Linked DNA regions of Homo sapiens. The protein of the gene in region 4 interacts with the protein of the main gene of each other region in a biochemical or structural test. Each region holds a gene or a part of one and is shown on either strand. Other genes may lie near its edges.

Region 1 (7,776 bases), on a different chromosome or scaffold from region 4:
TCTGGCCAGGTGCGGTGGCTCACGCCTGTAATCTCAGCACTTTGGGAGGCCGAGGTGGGCGGATCACAAGGTCAGGAGATCGAGACCATCCTGGCTAACATGGTGAAACCTTGTCTCTACTAAAAATACAAAAAAATTAGGCGGGCGTGGTGGCGAGTGCCTGTAGTCCCAGCTACTCGGGAGGCTGAGACAGGAAAATGGCGTGAACCCAGGAGGGAGAGCTTGCATTGAGCCGAGGTCACGCCACTGCACTCCAGCCTGGGCAACAGAGCAAGACTCCATCTCAAAAAAAAAAAAAAAATTAAGTTCTAATCAGCAGATGTGATCAAATGATACTAAGGATGTCACTAACTCTTAAAACGTACCTGGTTTTCTGTATCATATGTTTTGGTAGAGGTCCAAGAATCCTTTCCATCATTGCTAAATGCTCCTTACTATCGTGTGTCTAGAAATAAAATAAAAACAGACTTGGGGAAGATGACCACCAAAACAGACACAGTTAAAGCTGACAGCAAAAAAACTAACATTAAGGCTTGCAGAACAAACTCGCCAATGATTCCCTACATGGACACGGATAATTGCTTATATACTGAAAGATGTTTTAAATAAAACAATTATGAAAGAAATATGAATTAGTTTATTTATGCTTATCTACAATTAATAGTCTATAATGGGGGAAGCAAAAGTATTTATTCATATAAACAGGCACCTTTCTTGTGCAAAGCAAGGTTGAAATAGATCATTGTCACTTACTGGAAATACGGTAAACCCAAGATAGTATTCAATAAGAATGCATCCTATGCTCCAGACATCACATGGTTGGGACCACCCTAGGGCTGCAAAGCAAAGCAAAATTTAAGGAAAAAAAATACTCAATGTTTGTTAAAGAAATTAAAAAGTTAGTTAACACTAATACTTTAAAAAAAAAAACACATGTAATGTAGGCTGGGCACAGTGGCTCACACCTGTAATCCCAGCACTTTGGGAGGCCAAGATGGGAGAACTGCTTGAGCTCAGGAGTTCAAGACCAGCCTGGGCAACACAGCGAGATCCCACCTCTATTAAGATATATATATATCTGAATTGGCCGGGCACAGTGGCTCACGCTACAGGCATAATCCCAGCCCTTTGGGAGGCTGAGGCAGGTGGAACACGAGGGCAGGAGATCAAGACCATCCTGACTACACGGTGAAACTCCGTCTCTACTAAAAATACAAAAACAAAATTAGCCAGGCATGGTGGCAGGCACCTGTAGTCCCAGCTACTCAGGAGGCTGAGGTGGGACAATGGAGTGAACCCCATAGGCGGAGCTTGCGGTGAGCCGAGATCGCGCCACTGCACTCTAGCCTGGGTGACAGAGCAAGACTCCGCCCCCCCCCCAAAAAATTATATATATACACATATATATGCAATGTGATGTTTGAGCTGGAAGATCCTAAAGCAATCACTTAATCCAAGGTTAAATACAATATATATGGCCGGGCGCAGTGGCTTATGCCTGTAATCCCAGCACTTTGCAAAGCCAAGGCAGGCAGATTGCTCCAGGTCAGCAGTTTGAGACCAGCCTGCCAACATGGTAAAAACCCCATCTCTACCAAAAATAAGAAAATTAACCGGGTGTGGTGGTGGGTGCCTATAATCCCAGCTACTCAGGAGGCTGAGGCAGGAGAATTGCTTGAACCCAGGAGGCAGAAGTTGCAGTGAGCCAAGATTGCACCACTGCACTCCAGCCTGGGCGACAGAGTAAGTCTCCGTCTAAAAAATAAATAAATGATAAAAATAAATAAATTATATAGTGTTATATATAGTCTGGAATAAAATAGGCATTAAACAATTTTCTGAGATGGAGTCTCGCTCTGTCGCCCAGGCCGGAGTGCAGTGGCGCAATCTTGGCTCACTGCAACCTCCGCCTCCCGGTGTTCAAGCAATTCTGCCTCAGCCTCCTGAGTAGCTGGAACTACTGACGTGTACCACCACACCCAGCTAATTTTTTGTATTTTTAGTAGAGATGGGGTTTCACCATATTAGCCAGGATGGTCTCGATTTCCTGACCATGTGGTCTGCCCGCCTTGGCCTCCCAAAGTGCTGGGATTACAGATGTGAGCCACCGCGCCCCACCCTTGGCCTCCCAAAGTGCTGAGATTACAGATGTGAGCCACCGCGCCCCACCTGGCATTAAACAATTACATTTAAAAACCCTACCACATATTACAAATGTGAAAACAATTCCAGAAAGGTTAAGCCACTTGCTCAAATTCCCAGAGCTAATTATCTGGTACAATTGAGAGCTTAAAATCCATAATGCACTTCATGATACTTATCCCTTAAAGAGAATATGATAAAGCCCCACAAGTAAGACCTAAAACTGCTAAAAAAATTTTAAGTCTCAATAAGGAAATACAAAGGTTCTCAAAGGACAATTAATACTCACCTAAAATAACTTCAGGTGCTCTATAATGTCTTGTAGATACCAATGTACTGTGATGTTCGTCATCATATGTTGCACTACCAAAGTCTACAACTTTAATATCTGGATTTATTAAGGTGCGTTCATCACGTTTCTGAAAATCATAAATGATGGTTAAGAAGGCATAAGCTATTAAGGCATAAGATACTTTATGAATATTTTGGAAGACTTACTATTTTGGGATTATACGCCTCTGTGTAGTCAGACTGCACAAATAAGATGTTTTCAGGCTTTAAGTCTGTGTGAGTCAACTTATTACTGTGCAAAACTGAGAATAAAGAGAAAGTTGCTGTAATCAGAAAACACCAAACCAAACCAAATCACAAAACCCCACAACAGGCCGGGTGCAGTGGCTCACGCCTGTAATCACCTGAGGTCAGGAGTTCGAGACCAGCCTGACCAATATGGTGAAACCCTGTCTCTACCAAAATTACAAAAATTGGCCGGGTGTGGTGGCGTGTGCCTGTAGTCCTAGCTACTCGGGAGGCTGAGGCAGGAGAATCACTTGAACTGGGGAGGCAGAGTTTGCAGTGAGTGAAGACTGCGCCACTGCACTTCAGCCTGAACAACAAAGCGAGACTCCATTTCAAAAAACAAAAAAACCCAACAAAAAACCTCTGATTCCTTTCCCAAAGAATGGTCAACATTCCAGTCTGCTAGAAAATCACCAGTAACTAAAACTTACTACCTCTTATGAAGCTTTCTTTTATGAGATATATCACGCCTTAATTTTTACCCAGCATTCGAAGTTACTATTTTTGCGCATCAGAAAAGTCTAAATCATAGTCTGCAACAAAGTACGTTGTTATATGGTGGATATCCTACTTGCTGAATGAAATGTACACTGCTGGATCAACAGCCTGTAATCAAATCTCTTCATACCTATTCTTCCTCCCCCTTTATTTTTAATCAAATAAAAATTGTACACACTTAGGATGCACATTTTGATATGTGGAATGGATAAAACCAGCAAATTAACGAAGATATACCAAGAACTTACAATTCACAGACTTGCATATCTGATATGCCATCTTTCTGATATGATCCAGTCGAAATGGTAGAAAACCATTTTCTTTAATGAAGTCGTAAGTACTAAGTCCCAATAGTTCAAAAACAATGCAAATGTGACCATGATGCTCAAACCATTCCAACATCTGGACACAGCGGCTACAAACACATGAAAAATAGCTAAGTATAGTTGCTCCTAATTTAAATATACCTGATACCACTTCCCAAGTTCTAATCTGATACTTACAAAGTACTGTTGGGGTCTGTTGTATTCAGATGTTCCAGAACTTGTATTTCTGAGCGAGCAGCTTCACAGTATCTATCCACATTTTTAACTATTTTTACTGCTACATGTCTACCTCCCCTGTTAGAAAGATGCATGCAAATTTAAGAATGACAGACATGATGCTCAATTCCAGGTATTACTGTCTTCAAACTGTACTACTACTCTGACCCACTGTATTTTTTTAATTTATGGTTTAGTGTTCAGTTCTGATTCTATTACATGCTGAATGACACAAATTTCTTTCATCAAACCACCACTCACATGAGTTATTTTTTGGTATTTCAGCTAAACAACTTCTTCCTATATGGTACCTGTCACTGTCAAACATTATCTCAAATGTTCTTTTAGTCCAGGTTGCCAAAAGAGTTAGGATACAGTGGGGAAAGAGTAAAGAGCTCTAGGACCGGGAGCAGTGGCTCTCACGCCTATAATCCCAGCACTTTGGGAGGCCGAGGGTAGTAAATCACTTGAGGTCAGAAGTTCGAGACCAGCCTGACCAACATGGTGAAACCCTATTTCTACCAAAAATATGAAAATTAGCCAGGCACGGTGGTGTGTGCCTGTAATCCCAGCTTCCTGGGAGGCTGAGGCAGGAGAATTACTTGAACTCGGAAGGTGGAGGTTGCAGTGAGCCAAGATTGCACCACTGCACTCCAGCCTGGGCGACAGACCAAGACTCCATCTCAGGGAAAAGAAAAATAAACAAAAAAAGAGCTCTAGCTCTCATGTCCTTACCAATCAATAGTAGGAAGCCCCCTCAAAAATGCTTTGCCATTCAGGAAGAGGAAGAACAATAACAACAACAACAACAACAACAACAAACAGGGAACTAAAAAAAAAGAGTAACGGAAAAAATTCTATACTATCTTAAGAAATTTCATGGCTGGAGCCAAGCGCTCATGCCTGTAATCCCAGCACTTTGGGAGGCTGAGGTGGGCAGGTCACCTGAGGTCAGGAGTTCGAGACCAGCCTGGCCAACATAGTCTCTACTAATACAAACAATACAATACTAATACAAACAATAGCTGGGCATGGTGGCGCGTGTCTGTAGTTCCAGCTACTCAGGAGGCTGAGGCAGAACAATCACCTGAACCCGGGAGGCAGAGGGTGCAGTGAGCTGAGATTGCGCCACTGCACTCCACCCTGGGTGACAGAGCGAGACTCTGTCTCGAGAAAAAAAAAAATTTCAATCAGTAGTTTGATAAACATACATAATTAAACTTGGGACACCAAGTTATCTCCAGCTATGTTATCAGAATGAATTACAGCACTTCCTAAAAATATAGATTCCTAGGTAACTACCCTGAAAAGGTCTGGGGTAGGCAAACCTCTCGAGGAGGATCTTAACATAAAACCAAGGCTGAGAACCACTAATATGGTGGGGGAAAAAAATATGGCCTAACAACAGTGTCCAGTTGAACAACAAAACAATACTTTCAAAACAATATAAAGTGTGTTCTCAGCCTAAAATTAGAAATTATACATACTATTAGTAGCTGTTTAAAAAATATGAAGGGGCAAGTACCTCTTAACTGGAAGTGTCTTACATCCAAGTAAAAAAGGGTATAAAGATATGTATCTAACTCATGGTCAGACCACTTTCTAAAGCTAAATCAATTACCTGTATTGCCAACTTCCCTAAAAGTAATCCCAACATGGGAAACTTACGCTTTATGATCGATGCACTCCACAACTTTTCCAAAAGCTCCTTCACCTAAAGTATCAACAATTTCATCTAAAAGAGAGAAATAAATCTCAGTCATATCAAGAAGTGGAAACAATGTACTTATCACAATAAATGCTATCAATGTAGATTATTCTAGTTGATGCTACAAATTTCCTTATCACTAGATATTTTATTGGTCAACACCATCAAAAAACATAATTATTAGGTCTAATTTCATTAATTTGATTACTGTTCTGGAAGTTCTATATAACAAACATTACATTTCTAAAGAAAGCAAAAATACAATCCCCCCCACCAAAAGAAATGGAAAAATAAAACAAAAACAAAAAAGAGAAAGAAAAAAAGATTTCCAAATCCCTGAAAGCTTAATCTATATATAGATTATGTTATCTGAAAAGTTAATAAGTGTTGAAAAATATTCTATACATCTTGCACTTAGTACGTCTCCACTCTGACAGATCAGGTGACCCTCCTCATCATCCTCTACACTCCTGGTTCTTTTCCTTCGGTGACTCTTCTGGAAACGTCAAGTGGGCGGCACCAAGATCATCCAGCCAATCAATATACCCGAGTGAATTCAGGGCAGAATACGAAATTCATTCAGCGGGGAGATATTCAGGCATTCAGATACACGCCAGGCCACAAACGGTTGGCAGGAGCAATTTCAAATTCAGTCCCCAGAAATTCACAGGGCACATAGTTTATGTTAACAGGAGAAAAACATGGCAAGGAACAGATTTTCAGATAAGATACTCAAAGTGGCAAGGCAACAAAACATAATACAATTGTTTTTCTTAAAAAAAAAAAATGCTTAGTTGTAGCATTCACTGAAACATAATTTTTTAGTTTCTAGTGTTCTAATTTAATGTTGCAAAATCGTATGATGTAATATTTACTTGTCAAAGTAGGCGGTGGCCAAATTAAGATTTCCTACCTAATCTAAGAAAACAAATATTATAACAGTAAATAAAATTAAAGTGCTAATTTTGGGGAAAAAAAGATTTGGCATACAAGAATAACACTACGGCATTTTTAATGTCATCTGAGCTGATCTCCATACTAATATATAACCCATAACAGTTCAAATCTGTTCTGGTTTGCTTAGTGAAAGAAGGGTTAGAAAACATGACTTGTTAGAACAAAGAAGCATACCTAATCCTAAATTATACAAAAATAAAATGCCCTGTTCTACTTTTGTGATTTCAATAGATCAAAACTAATCAGGTTTCTTGAAGTACCACAAAAAACCCTTTTAGAATATTTTGTAATAATTTTCAACTAATCTAAATTAAATCAATTAACTCCCATCATTTCACTGGAATGTCAATTAGGAGCCAACCAATAATTAAATTATAGAACTAAATGTGTACTTTATTTCCGGAATTTCCTATCCAATGCACAAACACAGAAAAAATCCTGCAGGTTAAAACTGAGATGATTTCATCTTAAAACTTTCTCAAATAATCAAACACAAAAATTCAAGTTTCCCTGTTCCACATGGGATATAAAATTTCCAAAATGTTTTAAAAACGTTCATACCCCATGTGAACGACGATGTGAAGTACTGTGGTGAATCCTGTGTTTGCTTTTATAACTACTTCTTCCACTTCTACCAGAAGACTTGCTACTATGGTTCTGATACCGGCTTTCATGGTCTCTTTGGCGATGTCCAGGTTCACATCCTTGAGTGTAGTCATTTCTGTACTCATCAATGTAGCGTCGACTATGATAATCTTTCTCATTTATAGACCTGCTTTCCAAATAATGGCTAGAGAAATAAAAATTATTTTCAATGTTTTATGCTAAGACCAAATATCCTCACATTCTCTTCAAGACAGCACCTAGACTCCCCCACAAGCAGCTTAATTTTACAAACATTACAAACCATCAAAATCTCTCATTGGAAACAAACGAATGGTAGTAATCAGGTACTTATTTTAAGTGATACTAGTTTTGTCTAGTAATGTATTGTTATATTCAGACATTTTAAGTATCCTCCTTACCTATCACACATTTTAGAGTGATTGTATTTGCAGCGCTTGTTCTCCTGGGCACTGCTATGTGATCTCTTCCTTCTTTTATGACTGCTGCTGCTCCTCCATTTTCCATAATCCCAATCCTTGTCATCCCAATCAGGACAGTAAGTTCTCTTTGAGTGTCTCATCTACATAAAAGGCAAGTTTTTCCTAGTTAAATTGTACCCCACACTGAGCTGTTTAAAATTCGTAATTACAAAGGTCCCCTCGTGACCTCGTTTTAAGACCAAAATTCAAGAATCATTATCACCCAATCTGAAATCACTGATAAATCCAATTACTGTGTTGTCCC
Region 2 (7,776 bases), on a different chromosome or scaffold from region 4:
TTTTTTTTTTTTTAATTTAAGAATCCAGGCTAGTTGTTTTATGCCACCTTAGTTTGGATTTGTTTGATTGTTTCCTCATGATTAAATTCAGGTTAACCGTGTTTGTCAAGCATAGTACATGGATTATTGCATTAGAATATGCATTCGAATGCATATTAGTATATTGCATTAGAAGGCACATGGTGTGAATTTGTGCTTATCATTGGTGGTAGTAAGTTTGATCACTTGGTTAAGGCAGTGCCTTCCAGATTTCCCAGTTGTAAAGGTACTTTGTTCTTTTTGTAATTAATAAGCAATCTGTGGAATGATATTTTGACACTGTGACAATCCTTTTTCCCGACAGTCTTTCACATAGTTGTTTTAGTATTCACTGATTCTTACCTGAATCAGTAATAGTATACTATAGTGATTGTAAAAATGGTGATTTTCTATTTCTGTAATCCCTTATGTATTTATTATTTGGCTTTCTTCTCTAAAGAAGATGTTTCTCTTCCTCCTGCCTCCACACTTACTTTCAGATCAGTGTGGACTTGTTCTGTTTTTAATTCATATATTAACTCATAATTTTATCCTTTATAGTGGTCTGGCCGGGCGCAGTGGCTCACGCTTGTAATCCCAGCACTTTGGGAGGCCAAGGCAGGTAGATTATGAGGTCAGGAGTTCAAGACCAGCCTGGCCAATATGGTGAAACCCCATCTGTACTAAAAATACAAAAATTAGCCCAGCGTGGTGGTACACACCTGTAGTGCCGAGAGGCAGAGGTTGCAGTGAGCTGAGATAGTGCCACTGCACTCCAGCCTGGGCAACAGAGCCAAGACTCTGTCTCAAAAAAAAAAAAAAAAAAGAAGTCTCCATGTTGGCTGGTGACATCCTTTTCAAGATGGTTCCTGTTTCTTCCTGACAGGTTCTTTTATTTGTTAGAACAGCAAGGTGTTCCAAGTTTACCCTGTTATTTTTCCTACCTTGGATTTGGCCATTTTTCCAAGGAGCTCAGGCTTTCCTTTAATGGAGAATGTTAAAGTCTGAGCACTAGACCATTACTATATATGTATGTCTTAACTTGCATGTAGAAGCCAGTGGGGGTGGAAGACATCAAGATACTACTAAAATCTCTGTAGTGCCCTGCACAATTTTAGACTCAGAGTATTCCTGCTGTGTGGTGTCATCAGGTTGTTCATACATAAGGACAACACATGGTGGCACTGGAATCAAGATTAGTTTTGTAAAATACAGAGCATTAAGCAAGTTTCCTATTTAAAAAAAAATGTTGGCATTTACGTTTTTGAGGTTTAAGTCTTTCTTGTACATTCATCTCTTCTATAGTTAAGGAATAATTTGTTTTTCCTTGCTTTGAAGCTGTGAGAGTGGGAATTTTTACCCTGGACACCAATTTTGATATTAGGGAAGAAACTAATTTACCTGAAGCTAATCAACAGCTTGAGGCTTGAGCCTACTGCTTTCTTTCACTATTTGCATATGTAGGTTTCACTTTTTCTTTTACCATTGAGTATTTTAATGTACATAATAATATTGATGAAGCCAGCCGCCCACAATTTAATGTTTCATGAATGCTTTCATTGACTATAGCATTAGACTTTGAAATTTTAGAATATTAACAGCTACATATTTATTCATTCAAGCTCTGTAACTTTTTATACTGAAAGAAAATAATACATAACATTTAATAGGGTGGAATTCACAGCTTGTCTTGCCGTGTTCTTCTTTTGTGCCGTTTTTTCCCTCCTTAATGAATTCCTAGATATCTGCATGGTATTTGAAGTTTTGGGGCATCATCTGCTCAAGTGGATCATCAAATCCAATTATCAGGGGCTTCCACTGCCTTGTGTCAAAAAAATTATTCAGCAAGTATGTATCTTGAATCAGCAAGTATCTTAGTCTTGACTATGTAGTGATTTTTTAATATTCTTGAAGTGTCAGGACTTTATTTTTTCCAATAGAATTTTTGTTTTAAGGCCGGGTGTGGTGGCTCATTCCTGTAATCCCAGCACTTTGGGAGGCCGAGGCGGGCAGATCACGAGGTCAGGAGATCAAGACCATCCTGGCTAACATGGTGAAACCTCCTCTCTACTCAAAATACAAAAAGTTAGCCGGGTGTCTTGGCAGGCACCTGTAGTCCCAAGCTACTCGGGAGGCTGAGGCAGGAGAATGGCGTGAACCCAGGAGGCGGAGCTTGCGGTGAGCCGAGATCACACCACTGCACTCCAGCCTGGGCGACAGAGCGAGACTCCGTCTCAAAAAAAAAAAAGAATTTTTGTTTTAAAATTCTTTGTTTTAAAAAGTAAGTTATTGGCTGGGCGCGGTGGCTCACGCCTGTAATCCCAGCACTTTGGGAGGCCGAGGCGGGCAGATCACCTGAGGTCAGGAGCTCGAGACCAGCCTGGCCAACAGTGCGAAACCCCGTCTCTACTAAAAATACAAAAATTAGCCGGGTGTGGTGGTAAGCGCCTATAATCCCAGCTACTCGGCAGGCTGAGGCAGGAGAATCGCTTGAACCCGGGAGGCGGAGGTTGCAGTGAGCTGAGATCGCGCCACCGCGCTCCAGCCTGGGCGACAGAGCAAGACTCCATCTCAAAAAAAAAAAAAAAGTTAATTGCTAAAATTAAATATTTCATTCAACCTTTAGAATTTATTGTGCTTATTCTCTTTTTAAATGTTTTAGCATAACCATTTTCCCCCAGGTTTGCCTCCTATAATAATTAGAAAGGGAAGCTGAGGTTCCTGACTTGGGAACATTGGAGCCCTTATCCAGAAGTTCTGGTTGCAAATAGTAATTTTACATGAATAGATAATTGCTATGTCAGATTATTGCCATCTCTTTATACAGCATGATTCATAGGCATTTTCTAATTTTCTAAAGAGCCTTCAATATACAGTATAGATTTTACCATCAGGAAAATATTAATACTTCAAGGTGCAAAAATTTGTTTGGATTATATGTCCTGGAAAGAGCTCCAAACTGGGCAGCAAGAGACCTCAATTCTTCCTCAGTGAGGAAATTTGAATTAAAGATATCTAAATGTCTGTCAGCACCTACATTACAACACTTAGAGGGTGTGTGTGTGTTGAAGTTTATTCTCAGTCTTTGCATTGTACATAGTTGAAGAATATCTCCAAATAGAATCAGCTTTGTAAAACATTGAAGAATTTTTTATTGTAAATAATTTCTTGCCTTTTTCATAGTTTAATCTTTCTGAGAAAGTTTATTTGTGCTTTTTTAAAAGGTGCTTTTATTCTCTATAGAAAACGCTATCATATCTTTTTTTTTTTTTTAATGTCATGTTATAATCTCTTACTTCTCCAGAAAGCCTGTATTTTGTGTTTGCAAGTCTGCCACTCTATTTCCATTCAGGTGTTACAGGGTCTTGATTATTTACATACCAAGTGCCGTATCATCCACACTGACATTAAACCAGAGAACATCTTATTGTCAGTGAATGAGCAGTACATTCGGAGGCTGGCTGCAGAAGCAACAGAATGGCAGCGATCTGGAGCTCCTCCGCCTTCCGGATCTGCAGGTGTATTTTCTTTTAGGGACTTCGCTATCATTAGAAGTTAAAAAGAAATTTCTATTTTTATTCTGTTACCAGGGAATTAAACACCACTCAATCCATTTCAACAATAACATATTTAAGAAACATTATCAGCTTCCAAGAGACATTCTCACTGTTACTTCCATAGGGGAAGGAGAAAACTAGATATTGTGTCTTTGTGTTGTATGTTATAAAAGCTGGTGTGTATTGTTTAAAAATATTTTTTCTTATGAGTTGATGATTTTTGAAGTGTTTACCTCTAACTGTGATCACACATGCTCATTTATAGGACTGGTAGTCTGTAGAGGGACAAGATAACATTGCTATTAATAGTTTAGGTTTAAACACTGGAGTAGACAGACTTGGTTTGAATTTGGGCTTCATCCTAGACTGAGAAACCTTAGCTGAGTTATTTTACTTTATTTTCCCTCAACTGCGAATTATTGGGATTAAATGGTAAAGCAGTTAGTAGTGTGCCACACAATATTATATACCAAATAAATTGCGGGACCAGGCACAGTGGCTCATGCCTGTAACGCAACACTTTGGGAGGTTGAGGTGGGTGGATGATTTGGGCCCAGAAGTTTGAGACCAGCCTAGGCAACACAGTAAGACCCTGTCTCTACAAAAATTAAAAAAATTAGCCAGGCATAGTGATGCGTGCCTGTAGTCCATTTACTCAGGAGGCTGGGGCAGGATGATTGCTTGAGCCTAGGAAGTCAAGGCTGCCACGAGTTGTGATAGTACCACTGCACTCGAGCATAGGCAACAAAGTGAGACCCTGTCTAAGACATAAAATTAAATAAATAAATAAAGGCTGCTTTATGATTTTTTTTCTTTTGAGATACAGATTTTAGTTTTAGTAGTGTGTCATTTTTTAGGAACTTGCTTGATCCTCAAGTTGAGTTATTAGTTATACACTTCTTTAAAAAGGAAGACTAAAGAAGGGGGAAATGGGGAGTTGGTTGTTAAATGGATGTAGTTTCTGTTTTACAAGATGAAAACATTCTACAGATCCTGTTATACAACAGTGTGAATAGTGTTAAAACCACTGAATGTACACTTATCTAGAGTATAAATTTTTATTATGTGTTTTTTGTTAACCACAGTTATTATACTAATATTTTAAAAAGAGGAAGACTGAAGATCCTACCTTCCAGCTAAGCTACACTGTTATCCATGACATGCTGTAGAGCAAATTACTATAGCTCTTGATGTCACCTAGACTCCCCTTTTAAAACTGACAGATTCTGGGTAGCATTTGAGGTGAAGAGGTTGTTGCTTGTCCCATTCTATTTTAAGCAGTGCATGGGAATGGAAAATAGGTGATTTTTAGCAACTTTAGTTTACCTGGGGAGGAAGAATTTTATTTATCCCTTTTTTTTAAGTTTGGCAATTTCTATTCATTATTTTCTTTAAAAATGGTAATAATATAGCTTCTACTTAAGTCATTTAAAAACAATAGTTTTCTCTGCAATGTAGACTACATAAGAAAGACTTTTCATTCTGGTAGAGTGTTTTATCTGAGCCTTAGTTTATATTGCCTGATGAATGCCAGAATTCTTACTTGGTTTTCTTTTCTTTTCAGTCAGTACTGCTCCCCAGCCTAAACCAGTAAGTATAAGGTGTTTTTATATTTAATTTTGATCTATGGACTATGGGCATGGGTTCTTCTGTTGTGGATGGTAACAGTTTGTTTCAAGTTTGAGAACCAAAAGGAAAAAAAATTCCTGCGCTTCTATAATTTTCTCCAGTAAATTCCCATGCACCTTCATCACATTTGTACTGGTGAGGCCTCTAAAAAATTCGAGTTTGTCTGAATGTAAACCAACCCCACGGACTGCTCAGAAGACCACACTTTGTTATTTATTCTGTTTTTATTTGGGTTTATAAGAGTATCCCGCATCTTTTAATTTAATGAAAGACTTAAGTGCTATGTTAGGGAAAGATTTGTGAAATTTAATTAGGAAGTAATTAAAGTTAACAACTATCTCCAACTGGGGGTAATTAATTAGCCACCTGAAGGCTTTATCTGTTTGTAATCTCCGCCCAGGCTGACAAAATGTCAAAGAATAAGAAGAAGAAATTGAAGAAGAAGCAGAAGCGCCAGGCAGAATTACTAGAGAAGCGAATGCAGGAAATTGAGGAAATGGAGAAAGAGTCGGGCCCTGGGCAAAAAAGACCAAACAAGCAAGAAGAATCAGAGAGTCCTGTTGAAAGACCCTTGAAAGAGAACCCACCTAATAAAATGACCCAAGAAAAACTTGGTATAAATAGAACATCACGAAAATTACTGTACAACACACTTTAACGTTAATTTATCATTGCTATATAATACAGTGGTTTCATACATACAACACATCTCTGGGGGTATCTTTATAAGAATATGGATCTTGTCATAAATGTTAGGCAGGTAATATTTAAATGTAATTTGTAACTTTTCTCAGGAAATGGAACATAGATTTCATTTAACAATTGGGTAAAAGTAAGATCTTGGCCCTTCCGGAAATAGGTTTTAGATGTTTAGTCATGTTTTTATGTCACTCAGTATAAGTTCTAGAAAATGTTTTAATCTTGTGAGAAATGTTTCTGTTCTTTCACTCACACACATATGCATATATCTTTTTTTGTTCGTTTGTTCCTTAGAAGAGTCAAGTACCATTGGCCAGGATCAAACGCTTATGGAACGTGATACAGAGGGTGGTGCAGCAGAAATTAATTGCAATGGAGTGATTGAAGTCATTAATTATACTCAGAACAGTAATAATGAAACATTGAGACATAAAGAGGATCTACATAATGCTAATGACTGTGATGTCCAAAATTTGAATCAGGAATCTAGTTTCCTAAGCTCCCAAAATGGAGACAGCAGCACATCTCAAGAAACAGACTCTTGTACACCTATAACATCTGAGGTGTCAGACACCATGGTGTGCCAGTCTTCCTCAACTGTAGGTCAGTCATTCAGTGAACAACACATTAGCCAACTTCAAGAAAGCATTCGGGCAGAGATACCCTGTGAAGATGAACAAGAGCAAGAACATAACGGACCACTGGACAACAAAGGTACCTATGCAGCTATACTTCCTCAACACTCCTTCCCTGCACAACACATTCACAGATTTCTAGACTAAAAGTATGATTGTTTTTGTAACTATAGCTTTACAACAGGTGTGTCTAAGTTACGTTTAAATTGTAATCTGTAGCTAACTTTATCCATCATGTACTGAGTACACAGCACTTCATTTGTTGCTGTGAGGGCAGAGGTTTTTAATTCTGGAAACTCAAGGCGTTGCTGTGCTCTTTTTGTCTCAGAAAATGTAAGTTGTCACTTGGGTATTGCTGACTGTATTACTCTTACCTTGGAGAGCTTTATTACTCATTGAGTATTTCTCTGTTCATTGAACAGTCTTATTGATGATGCCTGTTGTCTGTAGGAAAATCCACGGCTGGAAATTTTCTTGTTAATCCCCTTGAGCCAAAAAATGCAGAAAAGCTCAAGGTGAAGATTGCTGACCTTGGAAATGCTTGTTGGGTGGTAAGTTAAACTTGCCTTAATGGTGTTTTGAAGTGACTGGGAGGATGAATGAGAATTTGGACTTAGTTATGCAAAACATCCATAATTCTGTACCCAGATTGATACAACACTTCAGTGAATATTTTTTTACATTTAAAAAAACCTTTTACTATGGAAAAGTTTAAATATACTTACGAAAGTAGAATGGTAATCGTGATCATGAAAAGTCCTTCTGTTACCCCACCCCACTCCAGATACCCATCACCCAGATTCAGTAATGTCAACTCCTGGCCAATCTTGTTTTTAATATATATATCATTATTAACTTTCAGACACTCAGTGCCTATGTTCATACTCCCCTACTCCCATTTTCAAAATTGATGACTAACTTATAAATTGTAACCTCCTTTTAATTCACTTAACATATTTTGGACACTTTGCTTTGTCAGCCAGAAATTTAAATACAATTCAGTTCATTACATTGTTTCCCTAGTACACTTTAATCTACATATTTTTGACAGCTCTTTGTGATGAGACTCTGCACGCAAATCTTTGTATAGTTTTTCTTAGGACATGTCCTAGACATAGAATTGCTAAGTCAGAAGTTCTGTGATTTTTAAAAGGGCTTTATGATGTATAGTGTCATTTAACTTATTTTTAGTTATTCGTAATGACATGTAATTAGAAATAATTATATGTTTTTTGATG
Region 3 (7,776 bases), on a different chromosome or scaffold from region 4:
TGGATCACGAGGTCAGGAATTTGAGACCAGCCTGACCAACATGGTGAAACCCTGTCTCTACTAAAAATACAAAAATTAGCCGGGCATGGTGGCACGCGCCTATAATCCCAGCTACTCAGGAGGCTGGGGCGGGAGAATCGCTTGAACCCGGGAGGCAGAGGTTGCAGTGAGCCGAGATCGCGCCACTGCACTACAGCCTGGGTGACAGAGCAAGACTCAATCTCATAAAAAAAAAAAGAAACTTCAAGTAAGAGAAAAATTGAACTGCAACAGCAACAATAAGTCTGGATAAGGTACCTCTCACTACTGCCCTTTCCCAGAAATTAACCTACATTCTATGTAAGCACCTTCAAACACTCCCTGGAAAGGGGAACAGGAGCTGACCACGTCCAGCCAAGTAAAGAAAGCAAATCCTTAGGAGGATTCATCATAGCCAGTGCGTAACAAAGCCAGCTTACTCGGCGTGCAATTCCAGACTGCTGGAACCAAAGGGGCTGCAGAATGTCGGGCTGTTTGCAGGGCTGGCTCATCAATTTTACTCGCTGTGTGTTAAACAGTCTTGTCAGTAGAGGGAGCAGAGGGAGGTTTCAGAGCTTTTCCCCCATAAGCCAGTATGGAAACCAGCTGTGTTACCCAGTTTTCACTTACTAGAGTCACTTGGCATTCACTCCCAAAATAAGGCTTTGAATAAGTCAAGCCTTCTTAGGTAGACAAGAACACAAGAGCCAATCTATAATCTGTCATCACATTTAAATCCATGCCAATTCCTTGAAAATTACAATCCTGGGCCAGTTACCAATAGTAGGGTCCTATAATCAGGAACAACTATCAAAAGACAATATGACACTTCTTTCTCAATAGAGTCAAAGAGGAGGCATAATTTTCTTGAATAGAAACAAAACAAAACTAAACTAAACTAAATATAATGACATTAGATGGAAGAAGATACGAATTTTAAACTAAACTACACATTCTAGAAAGGTGTAAGTTGCTAAAACTGGAAGGTTTTTGCAAATGATGCTGCTGACTAAATATATTAAAAATGAAAACTGGTCAGAAATAAGATTTGGTATGCAGAGAGCAAGAAATAGCCTAATGGCATAGAAAATTTATTTAAATCACATTACTTCTTCAGGAGTATAAAAGTAATAAAACTGATCAGTACACACACACAGGGCTTGGCCACTTCCAGCCAATTCCTTCACAGCATTTGTTAAAGGCACGTCCCTGGAGTCAGCGATGGCAGACAGTTGATGGGAAGAAACACTTACCTTTTGGCAAATCCCCAGTACTGGAGGCTGAAACCGTTCTGCTTCTGTCATGGGATGGACTGCTCTCCTCTTGCTCAGTAAGTGGTGATCCCTCAGAAAGCACAGAGCCGCAGGCCACAGGTTCTAAGGATCCAGAGAACAACGAGGTGGAAAACTCTGGGAACTGTGACTCGGGAATTTTATGTCGTCCATTTGGCAATTCACCATTGAATTGTTCATAGGAGCTGCTATATGTGTAATCACTTTCTGCATTTGGCTCATCAAGATTATATTCCTCAGGATTTGGGCAGTCTTCTTCATCATCATCTTCATCGTCCAGTTGCTGCTCCAGTGAGAATGGGCCATTCTCAATATGGCCATTGGTTTTAGGTGATTCTATCCACGTAGGGTCTATGTTCGCAAGTTCCTGATCTACATCATCTTCATCTTTTTCAATGTTTTCTTTCTCAGCATCTTCTTTCTCTTCCTGGTCCTCAGCTTCACCTTAAGAATTTGATGGGTCAAGAATTAGAACTTGTTACTCTCCTTAATACAGCCTCATTAAGTACTTATCTCCATCAATAAAATACATTTTGAATATGCTTATGTACCACCTGGTAAACACCTCTTGGCTTTTGGGGTAAAACCTTCAGGTTTTCTAAATCTCATTTTTCATTCATTTAGTAATTGGCCTGCTCTTATAAGAAAAAGTTAGCTTTAAGGGAAAATAACTCTTTCTAAATAAAGTTGCACTTCCATTTCTACCCTCTATAATCTTCAGAAACAGACTTGTGGTGCATTACAGTTAGGTAAAAAGTTAATGACAAAATAAAGCACCATCATTAGCATGATAGAAACATGGAATTTCTCAATTATTTTACATTTTTAAAAACTATTTTGAAATGTTAACATATTTCTGGCATACAGTTCACAAATGAAGTACGAGGCTATTTCCCATATTTCCCAATAGGGAGTTGGAGAGAATCATCCTTGTCATCTGCAGCAGCAGCACAAATCAGCCCCCATGTTGACCTGGCAGAACCCTACTAATGGAGCTCTGAGAACCCCATGCAGCCCAGGTTCCAGGCCCCACTGACCATTGTCCTTTGCAGTCTCTGCCTCAGCCGCCTCCTCTAATCCTGTTGTTTTTAGTTTCACCTCTGGGCAGTATTCGCCATCCTGGTCATTGGAAGGTGCAGCTGAGGTGATGTTTTCTTCTATTATTTTCCTTTCAGCTTCTCGCTCCAATTCTTCTATCTCCTGCAGGCGCTTCTCCAATAACTCAGCCTGCCTCTTCTGTTTCTTTTTCAGTTTTTTCTTTTTGTTTTTAGATATTTTTCCTATCTATGTTAAGGAAAGACCACAGGTCAGTATTCTTCTTTTTAAAGCACCACGATAGTATAACGACTAGCAGCATGGCAAATAGCAATAAACTCTGCTTTCTCATGCCATATTCTATTAAAATCCCAAACCCAGACAGATCCACTTTGTGGTAAGGCTTACGATAAAATCAAAGGGAAAGCAGTGCTGACTGATATCACGTACTAGGTCTACTACCAGGTCCTGCCCTCAGAGGGATATAGCTTAAATCCAGTAAGTCTTCACCATTCAAACTCTAAGAGAACTGAAGTTCGAAATTCTCTTGGCCTTAAAGGAGAAGCTCCTCTTGCAAGTTTTATTTGCTGCTGTCTATATACAAAGTAACAACATCCCAGCTCCTCAATGCCAAAAATGAAACAGGTGCCCGAGCAGGTGTATGTCACTGTGTGTTTGGGTCTCACATATGAAGCTCTTAGCAGCCAAGACAACATGAACTGTAAGAGATAAGCCTATGCTGCAAAGGGAAAAAAGAAAAAGCTACAGCTTTTGTCTGCCTCCCGTCATGGTTACCTGACTTGCAAAGCACTGGCAATGACAGCCTCCAACCTTTCAATCAATCAGTAAATTCAAGCAGCTCAAGCCAGGGAAGAACTATGGGAAACAACTTGAGCTTCTCAGCAGGCCAGGAAGCTTAATTATTAAAGCTCCCTCTTGTTCCAGAACTTACATTCCAAATCAAGAGCTGTCTCAGTAAAAATAGTGTTTTGTTGTTGTTGTTGTTGTTTTCTTTGAGACAGAGTCTCTGTTGCCCAGGCTGGAGTGCAGTGGCGTGATCTCAGCTGACTGCAACCTCCACTTCTTGAGTTCAAGTGATTCTCATGCCTCAGCCTCCCATGTAGCTAGGACTACAGGTGCACACCATCACACCCGGCTAATTTTTTTTTTTTTTTTTGAGATGGAGTCTCACTCTGTCGCCCAGGCTGGAGTGCAGTGGCGTGATCTCAGCTCACTGCAACCGTTACCTCCTGGGCTCAAGTGATTCTACTGCCTTAGCCTCCTGAGTAGCCGGGATTACAGACGTCCACCAGCACACTCAGCTAGTTTTTGCATTTTTGGTAGAGACAGGATTTCACCATGTTGGCCAGGCTGGTCTTGAATTCCTGACTTCAAGTGATCTAGTGGCCTCAGCCTCCCAAAGTGCAGGGATTACAGGCGTGAGTCACCACACCCAGTATCTAATAAGGACATAGTGTTTTGACAGGACCACAAAATAGATCAGTCTCTTTCTTATTTAACATCCGCATGGAAAAAATTAGAACAACAGCTTCAGAAAAACAGGTAACTTAGCAGCCAATCAGAAATAATGTAAAGTGGTTTTGAAATAAAAATACTTCAACTCCATCACCTCACATTTCACTAAACTTGGCCACCATAGTCCAGAAAATGCATAAAGAAGACAATTTTTGAAAGGCTCTAACTATCCCAACTCTGCACAGATCATTAAAACTTAACAAGACAGGCTGGGCGTGGTGGTTCAAACCTGTAATCCCAGAAATTTGGGAGGCCGAGGCAGGCAGATAACTTGAGGTTAAGAGTTCGAGACCAGTCTGGCCAACATGGTGAAACCCCTCTCTACTAAAAATACAAAAATTAGTTGGGTGCGGTGGCAGGTGCCTGTAATCCCAGCTACTCGGGAGGCTGAGGCACAAGAATCGTTTGAACCAGGGAGGGGGAGGTTGCAGTGAGCCGAGATCGCACCACTTGCACTCCAGCCTGAGCAACAGAGTGAAACTCAGTTTTCAAAAAAAAAAAAAAAAAAAATTAACAAGACATTAAGTCTTACCTATTTGAGGATACACAGCTTTTATAAATGTGTCTACCCTTTAAATACACAACTTTTTTATAATTTGAACAACTCAATAATAAACGGTCTCTTTTAACATGGTGCATATAAAGTAATATGCGTAAGTACTTACAGGTTTCTGCTGTGGAGCCGTACTCACTAAAATAAAATCAAACAAAATCTGTATTTAGCAGAAAACAGACACATGCCTTCATGTAGGTCATTCGAATTGCAAAGTGAAATAATTATTGTCTTTTAATGGCTATCCAACTTCAAAAACTATTAATCAGAGCTTCTTAATCACAAGGATCTAGAGTAAGTTTATGCCACTGAAACAAATGAGTGACTCCTGAAGTCACAGCAGAAGTTACTCATACTGAGCCATTTCTCTTATTTATCTAAAATGAAATACTAATACATCTCAAACACAGTCAAGCTCAAGCACCAACAGATCACTTAAGAAAATGGAAAAGAATACATATCACAGTCATTAAACCAAATTTGTTTAAAATATAATGAAATGAACAATGTAGATGTACATCGATATTTGGAATCTATTTTGCAAGCTTTCTATAATTTAAATCAAATACTGCAGTTGGTATGCAGCAAATAGTCTAGGAATCACATGATTAAACCCCTACACCAGGGTCAAAAGCTTAACAGGCTGGGTCCATGATCTAAACAACACCCTGATGGCAGTAAAGGAGATGTGAAGAGAGCCCCAGGCAGTCCCAGGAGCCTCAGCCCTTTAGTATCCATGCTTGCCTGACAACACACAAAGGCACAGATCATGGTGTCGAAGAGTGAGAAGCACAGTCCACACTTCACTGCACCACCTCCCCGACCCCGCCCCAGAAATAAAGATATCCCAATACTCAGGTCACTTGATCTTCTTCCCCCACCATCAGGCCTTTTCTAACTAACTCCAAATCTGTTGATACAACTCAGGTTGACATAGCTATGCTAAATGGACAACAAGAATTTATGTACACAAAATTGAAGCCAGAAAAATATTCTGATGACTAAAGGTCAGCTACAGGAAAGCTGTTACTATGTTCTCCTCTGCAGAGAAGCTGGCAACAGAAAAAACTGTTCAAATATAGATGAAGCAGCAACTACAAATTTAAATGGCCTTTTAAAGGGGGACAAAAGTAAATACTTCCAATATTAAAATATAATGTAGCTGGGGCATTTTCCATTTCAAGGGTGCAGTTATTTCCAGCAATTAAACTTTTCCAAAATCTTCCTTATGTGTAACGTTTGATTCAGATACCTTCAACAACTGCAACTTTGCAAGCTCCCAATGCCCCCACACTGAAATGAAGCTGGCTCAGCTCCCTCACCTGCAGACCCTGAAGGAGGAGGAGCACCTGCTTTCTGCCACTCAGTGGCCTCAGCTGCCATTCTTCTCACATATGCATCATCCACACACATCAAGATATTTTCCGGCTTTATGTCAGTATGAATGATCTTGCACTTACTGTGTAAGTAATCTAACCCTTGAAGGACCTGGATATAGTAAAATCAAGAGAGAAGATAAGCTATTAATATCTCATTATATAACTTTTATTTATTTGAAAAACATGTAATACAATGCCAGGGTACAAAGTTTGATAAACACAAAAGGATATTTAGTAAAAATCTCCCTCCCATGCCTACCCACATTGGAATCCAGCTCTCCTTTCCATAAGCAACCAGTGTGTATAATTTCAGAGATTATTTATGCTCGTGGAAGCAAATGCATCTACATACAGTTGAACCTTGAACAACACAGGTTTGAACTGCATGGGTTCCCTTATACACAGATTGTCTTCCACCTCTGCCACTCCTGAGACAGCAAGACCAACCCCTCAGCCTACTCAACGCGAAGATAATGAGGATGAAGACCTTTATGATCATCTACTTCATATGATCTATCCACTTAATGAATAGTAAGTATATTTTCTCTTCTTTATGATTGTCTTAACATTCTTTTCTCTAGCTTACTTTGTTGTAAAAATATGCTATATAACACACATACAAAATACATGTTAATTGGTCATGTGATCATTAAGGATTCTGATCAACAGTAGGCTAGTAATTCATGTATCATACAATTGACCCCTTTAGGTATACAATTCAATGGATTTTAGATGTGCGACTATCATTACTATTTATTTTTTAAATTTTTTATGTATTTATTTTTTGAGACAGAGTCTCGCTCTGTCACCCAGGCTGGAGTGCAGTGGCACAATCTTGGCTCACTGCAACCTCCGCCTCCCAGGTTCAAGCAATTCTCCTGCCTCAGCCTCCCAAGCAGCTGGGATTACAGGCGTATGCCACCACGCCTGGCTAATTTTTTTTGTATTTTTAGTAGAGACGGGGTTTTACCATATTGGCCAGTGGTCTCGAACTCCTGACCTTGTGATCCACCTGTCTCGACCTCCCAAAGTACTGGGATTACAGGCGTGAGCCACCACACACGGCAACTACCACCACTATTTAAATGACAACATTTTCATTGCTCCAAAAAGAAACAACATATTCATCAGCATTCACTTCCCATCTCTCTCCTACCCCTTCTAACCCTTAGCAACCACTAATCTACTTGCTGATTCTGGACATTTCCTATAAATGGAATCATATAAAGTATTTTTTTGTAACTGGCATAATGTTTTCAAGTTTGACTCTTGTGCAGCATGTATTAGTACTTCGCTTATTCTTATTGGCAAACAGTATTCCACTGTATGGAGATACAACATTGTGTTTATCCCTTCACCTCATGAACATTTGGGTTATTTTCACTTTAGGGGCTATAAAAATAATACTGCTATTCACACTCGTGTATACATTTTTGTGTGAACATACTTTTTTTGAGGGGAGGTATATACCTAGGAGTTACCGTACTTAGGTCATATGGTGCCTCTATATTTAGCTTTTTGATGAACTGCCAAAGTGTCTTCCACAGTGGCTGCACCATTTTACATTCCTATCACCAATGTATGAGGGTTCCAATTCTTCGCCCTGAACAACACTTACTATCGTTTTTTACTTTATCCACCCAAGTGGATATGAAGTATCTTGTTGTAGTTTTGATCTACATTTCCCTGATGGCTAATGATGTCCATACATTTTTAACACTGCAAGAGAAGGGGGGCTTGATTTAAATAGAAAATAGCCTTGGTATCTAGACAACCCTACAGCATTATACTAAAAGAAAGTGATGAACCAAGATATTCATATTTCTCATATTAAAACAATCAAAAACTTACAGTGTCAGTGACCTAAATACAAGGTCAGTGTTTTTCTATAATTATTTCCACTGGAGAATAATTTTTTCAATTATTTCCATAAACAAAATTTATTTTTACAAAACAGATCATG
Region 4 (8,589 bases):
GTCTTCCAAGTACTGGAAGCAGTAGCAGATGAAGTTGGAGAAGGGGGTCAGAGCACAGACCACCTTGTGGTGTTTGAACCTTAGAGTGGAGATGATGGGGAGCCATCGCCTCTAAGGTTGGAGGCGTTTTGTTTGTTGGTTTGTTTGTTTGTTTTTTGAGACCCAGGCTGGAATGCATGGTGCCATCTTGGCTCACTGCAGCCTCTGCCTCCTGGGCCTCCAGCAATCCTCCCACCTCAGCCTCCTGAGTAGCTGGGAATAGAGGCGCGTGCCACCATGCCCAGCTACTTTTTGTATTTGCAGTAGAGACAGGGTTTCGCCACATCACCAAGGCTGGTCTCAAGCTCTGGAGCTCAAGCAATCTACCAGCCTCGACCTCCCAAAGTGCTGAGGTGTGAGCCACTGCACCTGGCCAGTTGGAGCCTTTCGAGCAGGGATGAGACACATCTAGATTTACATTTAGAAAGGTGACTGATGGCTGGGCGTGGTGGCTCATGGCTGTAATACCTGCACTTTGGGAGGCTGAGGCGGGCGGATTGCCTGAGCTCAGGAGTTTGAGACCAGCCTGGGCAACATGGTGAAACCCTGTCTCCACTAAAGTACAAAAAAAAAAAAAACAAAAAAAACAGCTGGGCATGGCGGCGTGCATCTGTAGTCCCAGCTACTCAGGAGGCTGAGGCAGGACAATTGTTTGAACCTGGAAGGTAGAGGTTACAGTGAGCCGAGATCGTGCCACTGCACTCCAGCCTATGCAACAGAGTGAGACTCCGTCTCAAAAAAAAAGAAAGGTGACTGAGGCAGCAAGATAGATGGAGGATGGGGTCAAGGGGCCCGCACTGGAGGCTGGGAGGCTGGGAAGCAGTGAGAAGACCTGTAGTAACTGCAGCTTCCTTTCTATATTAGCTTGCTAGGGCTATCATAACAAAAATACCACAGACTAGATGCTTAAACAAATGAGATTTTTATTTTCTGGAGGCTATGAGTTTACGATCTGGGTGTTGGCAGGTTTGGTTTCTCTGGAGGCCTCTGTCTTTGGCTTGTAAATGGCCACCTTCTTACCATGTCCTCACGTGGCTTTTTCTCTGTGCAAGTGCATCCTTGGTGCCTCTTTGTGTATCCAAATTTCCTCGTATAAGGACGCCAGTATGATAGGATTATGGCCCAACCTAACAGCATTGTTTTAACTTCATCATCATCTTCAAATGCACGATCTCCCAATACAGTCACATTCTGTGGTTCCAGGAATTAGGCCTCAACATATGAGTTTGGAGGTGACAGGAACACAGTTCAGCCCATAACATTTTCTTCTTTTTTGAGATGGAGTCTCACTCTGTCACCCAGGACGGAGTGCAATGGCATGGTCTTAGCTCACTGCACTCTCTGCCTCCTGGGTTCAAGCAATTCTCCTGCCTCAGCCTCCCAAGTAGCTGGGAGAACAGGCACCTGCCACCACACCCGGCTAATTTTTTGTATTTTTAGTAGAGATGGGTTTCACTATGTTGGCCAGGCTGGTCTTGAACTCCTGATCCACCTGCCTTGGCCTCCCAAAGTGGTGGGATTACAGGCATGAGCCACTGTGCCCGAAGCCCGTAACATTTTCTATTAGTAACAGGTATGGAATGGGGTCTGGACACCACTAGCCGATAAGATTAAGTCATTTCCCATTCCATCATTGGGAAATAGCCAACTCCTGTAATCCATCAAAATTATCTGTAAAATGGGCTTTGTGACCTGTTAAGAAAGACTACTTTTACCTCTGGATCCCAAGACATAGCAGAGAATCTGATACAGATCACACTGGGGCTCACTGCATTAATGAAGGATGAATGAAGCAATTCATTATCTGTAGTGGTAATGCACACTGAACTGTGGCTTGTCCTCAGACTTTAGAAAAAAGAGAGTTGTAGAGTAAGACTTGCCTGGTGTATGACAGGGCCAGGCGCTCTCACCTCTGTGATTCAAAGGCATTTAATACTTTCTTTTTGAGACAGGGTGTCACTCCATTGCCCAGGCTGGAGTGCAGTGGTGCAACCATGTCTCACTGCAGCCTCGACTTCCTGGGCTCAAGTGATCCTCTTACCTCAGCCTCGTGAGTAGCTGGGACTACAGGGATGTACCACCACATCCAGCTAATTTTTTGTATTTTTTGCAGAGGCAGGATTTTGCTATGTTGCCCAGCTGGTCTCAAACTCCTGGGCTCAAGCAATCCGCCTGCCTCGGCCTCCCAAAGAGCTGGGATTACAGGTGTGAGCCACCATGGCTGGGCCAAGTATTTTCATTTCAAGACCAAATTGTAGTTGTGACATATTTGTCTCCCATAGGTCAGGAGCTCCTGGAGAACCAGGTTTTATACGTCTGTCTTTGTATTCCCAGCCAGTAACCCAGGTCCTGGCAAAGAGCACATGCACCATTATAGTTTGTGGAATGAATGAGATAATTAGATTAAGAACCTGTGATGGGCAGGAACTGTAATTTTGCAATCTGGTTGTGTGTTTGCGGTTCATGATGTGTGCAGTCCTGTTTGTTTGTGGTTCAGTTTTTTTTTTTTTAGACGGAGTCTCAGTCTGTCATCCAGGCTGGAGTACAGTGGTGCAATCTCGACGCACTGCAAGCTCCGCCTCCCGGGTTCATGCCATTCTCCTGCCTCAGCTTCTGGAGTAGCTGGAACTACAGGCGCCCGCCACCATGCCCGGCTAATTTTTTGTATTTTTAGTAGAGACGGGGTTTCACCGTGTTAGCCAGGATGGTCTTGATCTCCTGACCTCATGATCTGTCTGCCTCGGCCTCCCAAAGTGCTGGGATTGCAGGTGTGAGCCACTGTGGCCGGCCTTTTTTTTTTTGGTGGTAGTAACAGTGGAGAGCCCTCAATAAATGCTTCATTGGGAAAACTGTAACCAACAGCTGAGAACTGCCTCATCTCACTGCTAAATCTGTAAATTGATTTTCTTCTTTCTTGTTTCAGTGGAGAAGATCCTTTCTCCTATCAAAGGCCAGAGGTTTCAAATATGCCCTGGAGCCTAACCCATTACTTTTTTTTTTTTTTTAAGACACAGTCTCACTCACTCTGTTGCCCAGGCTGGAGTGCAGTGGCGCGACCTTGGCTCACTACAGCCTAAGTCTCTTGACAGTCCACTGTTTAAAGCGATGCTCCTGCCTCAGCTTCCCGAGTAGCTGAGATCACAGGCGCCACCACCACGCCTGGCTATCCTTTGTGTTTTTAGTAGAGACAGGGTTTCCCCATGTTGGCCAGGCTGGTCTCGAACCCATGACCTCAAATGACCCACCTCTGCCTCCCAAAGTGCTAGGATTCCAGGCGTGAGTCACCACGCCAGGACCCAACCCGTTACCTTTTTAAGATTTTAAGTCATTAACTATCCCCTTCTTTTATTTTCCACCTCTCTACTGGAATATCCCCAACATTAAACATTCTCTCATTTCCTACGTTTGGGGTTTTTTTTTTTTTGGTCTTTTCTTTTTTTTTCCTTTTTGTGGAGAATGGCGTCTTGTTATGTTGCCCAGGCAGGTCTTAAACTCCTGGCCTCAAGCTATCTCCCTGCCTCTGCCTCCCTAAAGTAGTGGGATTATGGCGTGAGCCACCATGTCTAGCCTCTAATTTCCTATCTTCAAAAAGGCTCCAGCCCCACTTGGTGGCTCACGCCTGTAATCCCAGCACTTTGGGAACTTTGGGAGGTCGAGGCAGGTGGATCACCTGAGGTCAGGAGTTTGAGATCAGCCTGGCCAACATGGCGAAACTCCGTCTCTACTAAAAGTACAAAAATTAGCTGGGCGTGGTGGCGGGTGCTTGTAATCCCAGCTACTCAGGAGGCTGCGGCAGGATAAACTTGAACCCGGGAGGCAGAGGTTGCAGTGAGCCAAGATGGTACCACTGCACTCCAGCCTGAGCGATAGCTCAAAAAAAAAAAAAAAAAAAAAAAAAGGCTTCATGTCCCATACCTCCTTTGAGTTCTCACCCTATTTTGCTGCTTTCCTTCTTAAAAAGAGGTGTCCACGACCGGGCGCGGTGGTTCACGCCTGTAATCCCAACACTTTGGGAGGCTGAGGTGGGTGGATTATTTGAGCTCAGGAGTTCAAGACCAGCCTGGGCAACTTGGCGAAACCCCGTCTCTACCAAAAATACAAAAACTTAGCCGGGCGTGGTGGCATGCGCCTGTAGTCCCAGCTACTGGGGAGGTTGAGGCGAGGGGGTCGCCTGAGCCCGGGAGGTTGAAGCTGCAGTGAGCTGAGATCGTGCCATTGCACTCCAGCCTGGGTGACAGGGCCAGACCCAGTCCCCCCAAAAATAAAAGTGTTGGGCTTGTTATCAATGTGTAGTGCCTTACATTGTATAAACTCATTTAATCTTCACAATAGCATCGTGGCTGGGGGCCGGGGGAGGACTATTGTAAACCCCATTTTACAGAAAAGGAAACAAAGGCACAGAGCGGCAGAGCTGGGATTACGAACCCAGGCAATCTGGCTTTAGAGACCATACCCTTAACTGTGCTAAAGCATTATCCCAACATACGTTGATATATTTGTGACTTTATTTCTTCAGCGATTATCTCCCCTCGCCAATGCACAGGTCTGCGGGAGCATGGACTGTCTGAAAGGTTCTGAGTTTAGCTTTAAGCACAGTGCCTGGCACATACCATTTGTTGAATAAATGGATCTACCTATCTATATATATGTGTGTGTGTGTGTGTGTATGTGTGTGTGTGTGTGTGTGTGTATATATATATATATATATATATATATTTTTTTTTTTTTTTTTTTTTTTTTTGAGATGGAGTTTTGCTCTTGTTGTCCAGACTGGAGTGCAATGGCGCGATCTCGGCTCACCGCGACCTCCGCCTCCCGGGTTCAAGCGATTCTCCAGCCTCAGCCCCCTGAGTAGTTGGGATTACAGGCATGCGCCACCACGCCAACCTAATTTTGTATTTTTAGTGGAGACGGGGTTTCTCCATGTTGGTCAGGCTGATCTCGAACTCCCGACCTCAGGTGATCCGCCCGCTTCGGCCTCCCAAAGTGCTGTGATTACAGGCGTGAGCCACCTCACCTGGCCTACTGGATCAATATCTTTTTAAAAAATTCCACACTGGGAGACATTTGGTGTAGGACTGAATCCCCGTATTTTAGAAGCCGCCTTGTCTCTTCTTGCCTCGATTTCCCATCCTGTTAATCAGGAGACTCAGGGCGGGAGGACAAAGCCAGGTGCAAGAGGCGTGAGCACAGCGACTAGGAAAATGGAGTCGGAAGCCGTAATCTTCAGTTTCCTCCGCTGCATGAGGCACCATGTGCACCACGTGGACTAAAGGAGACACTTTCTCCATTTTGAAGCGGTGTCCAGGCTTCAAGACCTAGGCTCCAATTTCTCACCGTGAAGAAGCTCGGGAAAACCGGGCGCTTGGGGAGGCGCGCGGGCAGAGGCTACCCGTCCCCGCGGCCTCTAGACAGGGGCGGAGTCCCTACCCGGCCTCCGCGGGCCCCGCCCCCGGACGGCGGAAGCCGAGCTCGCCCTCTCCGCCCGGGCCTGGGCGTGTCCCACGGGCGCACGGCATGCTGGGAAGGCGTCCGCGCGGCGGCCATTTTGTCTTGTCGGCTCCTGTGTGTAGGAGGGATTTCGGCCTGAGAGCGGGCCGAGGAGATTGGCGACGGTGTCGCCCGTGTTTTCGTTGGCGGGTGCCTGGGCTGGTGGGAACAGCCGCCCGAAGGAAGCACCATGATTTCGGCCGCGCAGTTGTTGGATGAGTTAATGGGCCGGGACCGAAACCTAGCCCCGGACGAGAAGCGCAGCAACGTGCGGTGGGACCACGAGAGCGTAAGTCCCGCGGGCCTTGGCCTGAGCCCGGGCTCCGTGGGGGAGGGGAGCGGGCGCGGGCTGTGGCCCTCCTGGCCGCGGCGCGATGTGGCCAGGGCCGCACCCGGGGTCGAGCGTCTGACCCGGTGCCCATGGAGCCAGGAGGGAGGATGCTGTCCGGACCCGGGGATGGGGGTGATTTGGTTTTGTTGTTCTAGTATCAAGGGGGTCCGGGAGAGCCCTTGGCATAATTGAAAAGCACCTTGATGAGGCGGGGAAACGCGGGAAAGAAGGATAGCAGCGTCTTATTAAATCTAGCGGCTCCGAGGTTTCACCTCATTATGAAATAGGGAGAAGGGCACATTTTTCTATAGTTTGGGTTGAACGTCGTATTTAGACTAAAATTTCTGACCAGGATTCATGGTAAAAATCGTGGCGGTATTTTATTTAAGTAATTACAGCATGACGCTTATACGGGGAAATAGAAATGTAAAAGAAGTCGTTTACTTGTTAGGGTTTACCGTGATGATTTACAAGTATTGTTCGTTAACAGTATTCTAAGAAGTCCCTTATAGAGGCAGCTGTCAAGGTTTTTTCTTCCACATAAAACTCATTTGATGCTCTTAGCCCGGGGAGTAAAGGTAAATATTATAACCCCAGTTTCACTGGTGAGACTTAAAAAGGCTCACCCAAAGTCTTGGCAACTGAGGAAACTAATCTTTGTAGTTCTGTTAGCTTTCCACAATCCTATGAAACTGGTTCTCTGCACCTACTGTAGCATTTCAAGTGTTTTGATCTAGTTTTGAACATGCAGTGTAATGTTTACTTTAGGTCTTATCTGGAGAATAGATACAGAATTTAATTTTACTTTGAGGTTATAATCTAACATGCTAATTTTAAAACAATTGCTAATCAAAATAGGAAGGAATAGTTCAGGTAATGCATGCTTCTTTAGAAAACTGTTTTCTTACTCTTTTTAAACGTAGGCTTTGGTTAAGGTAAAATTTCTTTTTTGCAGTGTAGGAAAGCAAGTTGGTGCTAGATGACTCCTTTTAGGACTTTAAGAAAGAGTAAGTTTGGCTCAAGTTGTGTTGGGGTGCTAACTGATTCCAAAGTAGTATGAAACATTCTTAGAGTAGAATTTATTGTTTTTAAGAGGTGGGTTTTTTGTTTTTAACATTTAGGCTCCCCATCCCCCCGACCATTTGTCACAATAGGAGACTAAGGAACTGCTTACCTTGACCATCTTTCTTTTGTAGGCATCTTTGTTATAGCGAAGTAACTTTTTTTTTTTTTAACTACCTGACTCTGTAACCTTTCAGTCTAAACTTTGCAAATGTGTTAGGAATAACGCTCAAAATCCTAAGTAAGGTAAAAAACCAAAACATTATGGCGATTTGGCTTATGTTCAATAGGTTATTTGTATATTTTGAATTCAAGAGAAAAATGCTTTCCATTGCACTCCTTATCAGTTGGAACAGCCTTGTATCTCTGCACCCTTGACTTTGAACACGTTTTAGAGAAACTGTTTTCTTTCCCGGGGTAATTTGTTGCCACATTGCATTGTATGTGATGGGTTTATGACTCTTCAATGATGAGGCCCTCAGAATAGCAATTTAGGTTTTATGTCATCTCAGCCGTAATCTGCTTTGCTTTCAGTTTTAGTACTTTTCACTAATTTTAACTTTCAGTGTTTATTACTAAAGTATTTAATGCCTTAATGACAGATTGCACTTCACTCTAGATTGAAGGATTTCAAGTCAGTTACTGGCATTTCAGATTGATATCTGCAGGGAAAATGTTGGTAGTGTTGAGCAAAAACAAAGCACATGGTCTCATCTAAATAGGTGGAATTATTGTATAATGAAGCTGGGGAAGCTGTTGATATCGTTTCCGGGTCATCTGCATATTCTTGTACTGTTGGCTGTTAGTGCTAAACCTGCAGGGATGGGCAAACCCATTATATGCTGAAAAGGAGTCACCTTTTCTATAGCCTAATATTTTAACATATTTTTGCATTCCTGTTCTATCTGGAAATTTTTCTTGGCCATACTTGCATTAAATGGAAGAAGCCATTTCAGCTGGATGGGGCCCTTGTTTTTTTTTTTGGAATAGAGATAAATACCAAAATAAGGAAAGGAAGCAACCATTAATTAAAAGACAGTTGCCGTGGCATCTGTAAGTATTTAACAGTCAAAATGCTAACTTTACCTAGTATTAAAGGTAGTCCCTAGATAGCTGTATTTGACCTGTGGAATTTGTTTTAAATGCATATTTCTGTACTTCAACCCCTTCAACTCCCCTTCCCAGAGAGTCAGATTCTGTCTGTCTTGGGGAAGGGTCCCAGTATCTGCATTTTTTATGGCTCCTCTTATGCATTCTTTTTTTTTTTTTTTTTTTTTTTTGAGACGGCGTCTTGCTCTGTCTCCCAGGCTGGAGTGCAATGGCGTGATTTTGGCTCATTGCACCCTCCGCCTCCCGGGTTCAAGCGATTCTCCTGCTTCAGCCTCCCCAGTAGCTGGAACTACAGGCGCCCTCCACCACGCCCAGCTAATTTTTATATTTTTAATAGAGATGGGGTTTCACCATGTTGGCCAGGATGGTCTCGATCTATTGACCTCGTGATCTGCCCGCCTCGGCCTCCCAAAGTGCTGGGATTACAGGCGCGAGCCACCGCGCCCGGCCGGCTCCTCTTATGCATTCTAAAGTTTGTGACCTACTGTTTCCTGACCCATCCTGATTAGTCCTGGGCTTTTAATTGTGCATATCTGCACAATTAAATCTTAATTGGT

Evidence for each region.
Region 1: of the proteins of LUC7L3 (region 4) and CLK1, one has a biochemical effect on the other in vitro, tested with the Homo sapiens proteins (one study listed by BioGRID).
Region 2: of the proteins of LUC7L3 (region 4) and SRPK1, one has a biochemical effect on the other in vitro, tested with the Homo sapiens proteins (one study listed by BioGRID).
Region 3: of the proteins of LUC7L3 (region 4) and SRPK2, one has a biochemical effect on the other in vitro, tested with the Homo sapiens proteins (one study listed by BioGRID).

The regions. Positions count from the first base shown.
Region 1 is NC_000002.12:200,854,251-200,862,026, forward strand, and holds part of CLK1 (dual specificity protein kinase CLK1), read right to left. Parts: intron 7,613-7,776; coding exon 7,452-7,612; intron 7,217-7,451; coding exon 6,988-7,216; exon of another isoform or gene 5,966-6,987; coding exon 5,875-5,965; exon of another isoform or gene 5,497-5,874; coding exon 5,430-5,496; intron 3,840-5,429; coding exon 3,723-3,839; intron 3,635-3,722; coding exon 3,468-3,634; intron 2,736-3,467; coding exon 2,641-2,735; intron 2,562-2,640; coding exon 2,432-2,561; intron 837-2,431; coding exon 754-836; intron 446-753; coding exon 366-445; intron 1-365. UniProt on the Homo sapiens protein: Dual specificity kinase acting on both serine/threonine and tyrosine-containing substrates.
Region 2 is NC_000006.12:35,868,323-35,876,098, reverse strand, and holds part of SRPK1 (SRSF protein kinase 1), read left to right. Parts: intron 1-1,759; coding exon 1,760-1,866; intron 1,867-3,370; coding exon 3,371-3,536; intron 3,537-5,139; coding exon 5,140-5,165; intron 5,166-5,604; coding exon 5,605-5,818; intron 5,819-6,197; coding exon 6,198-6,617; intron 6,618-6,988; coding exon 6,989-7,089; intron 7,090-7,776. UniProt on the Homo sapiens protein: Serine/arginine-rich protein-specific kinase which specifically phosphorylates its substrates at serine residues located in regions rich in arginine/serine dipeptides, known as RS domains and is involved in the phosphorylation of SR splicing factors and the regulation of splicing.
Region 3 is NC_000007.14:105,140,737-105,148,512, forward strand, and holds part of SRPK2 (SRSF protein kinase 2), read right to left. Parts: intron 5,923-7,776; coding exon 5,757-5,922; intron 4,573-5,756; coding exon 4,547-4,572; intron 2,595-4,546; coding exon 2,348-2,594; intron 1,755-2,347; coding exon 1,272-1,754; intron 1-1,271. UniProt on the Homo sapiens protein: Serine/arginine-rich protein-specific kinase which specifically phosphorylates its substrates at serine residues located in regions rich in arginine/serine dipeptides, known as RS domains and is involved in the phosphorylation of SR splicing factors and the regulation of splicing.
Region 4 is NC_000017.11:50,714,014-50,722,602, forward strand, and holds the start of LUC7L3 (luc7-like protein 3), read left to right. Parts: upstream 1-5,589; 5' UTR 5,590-5,719; coding exon 5,720-5,818; intron 5,819-8,589. UniProt on the Homo sapiens protein: Binds cAMP regulatory element DNA sequence. May play a role in RNA splicing.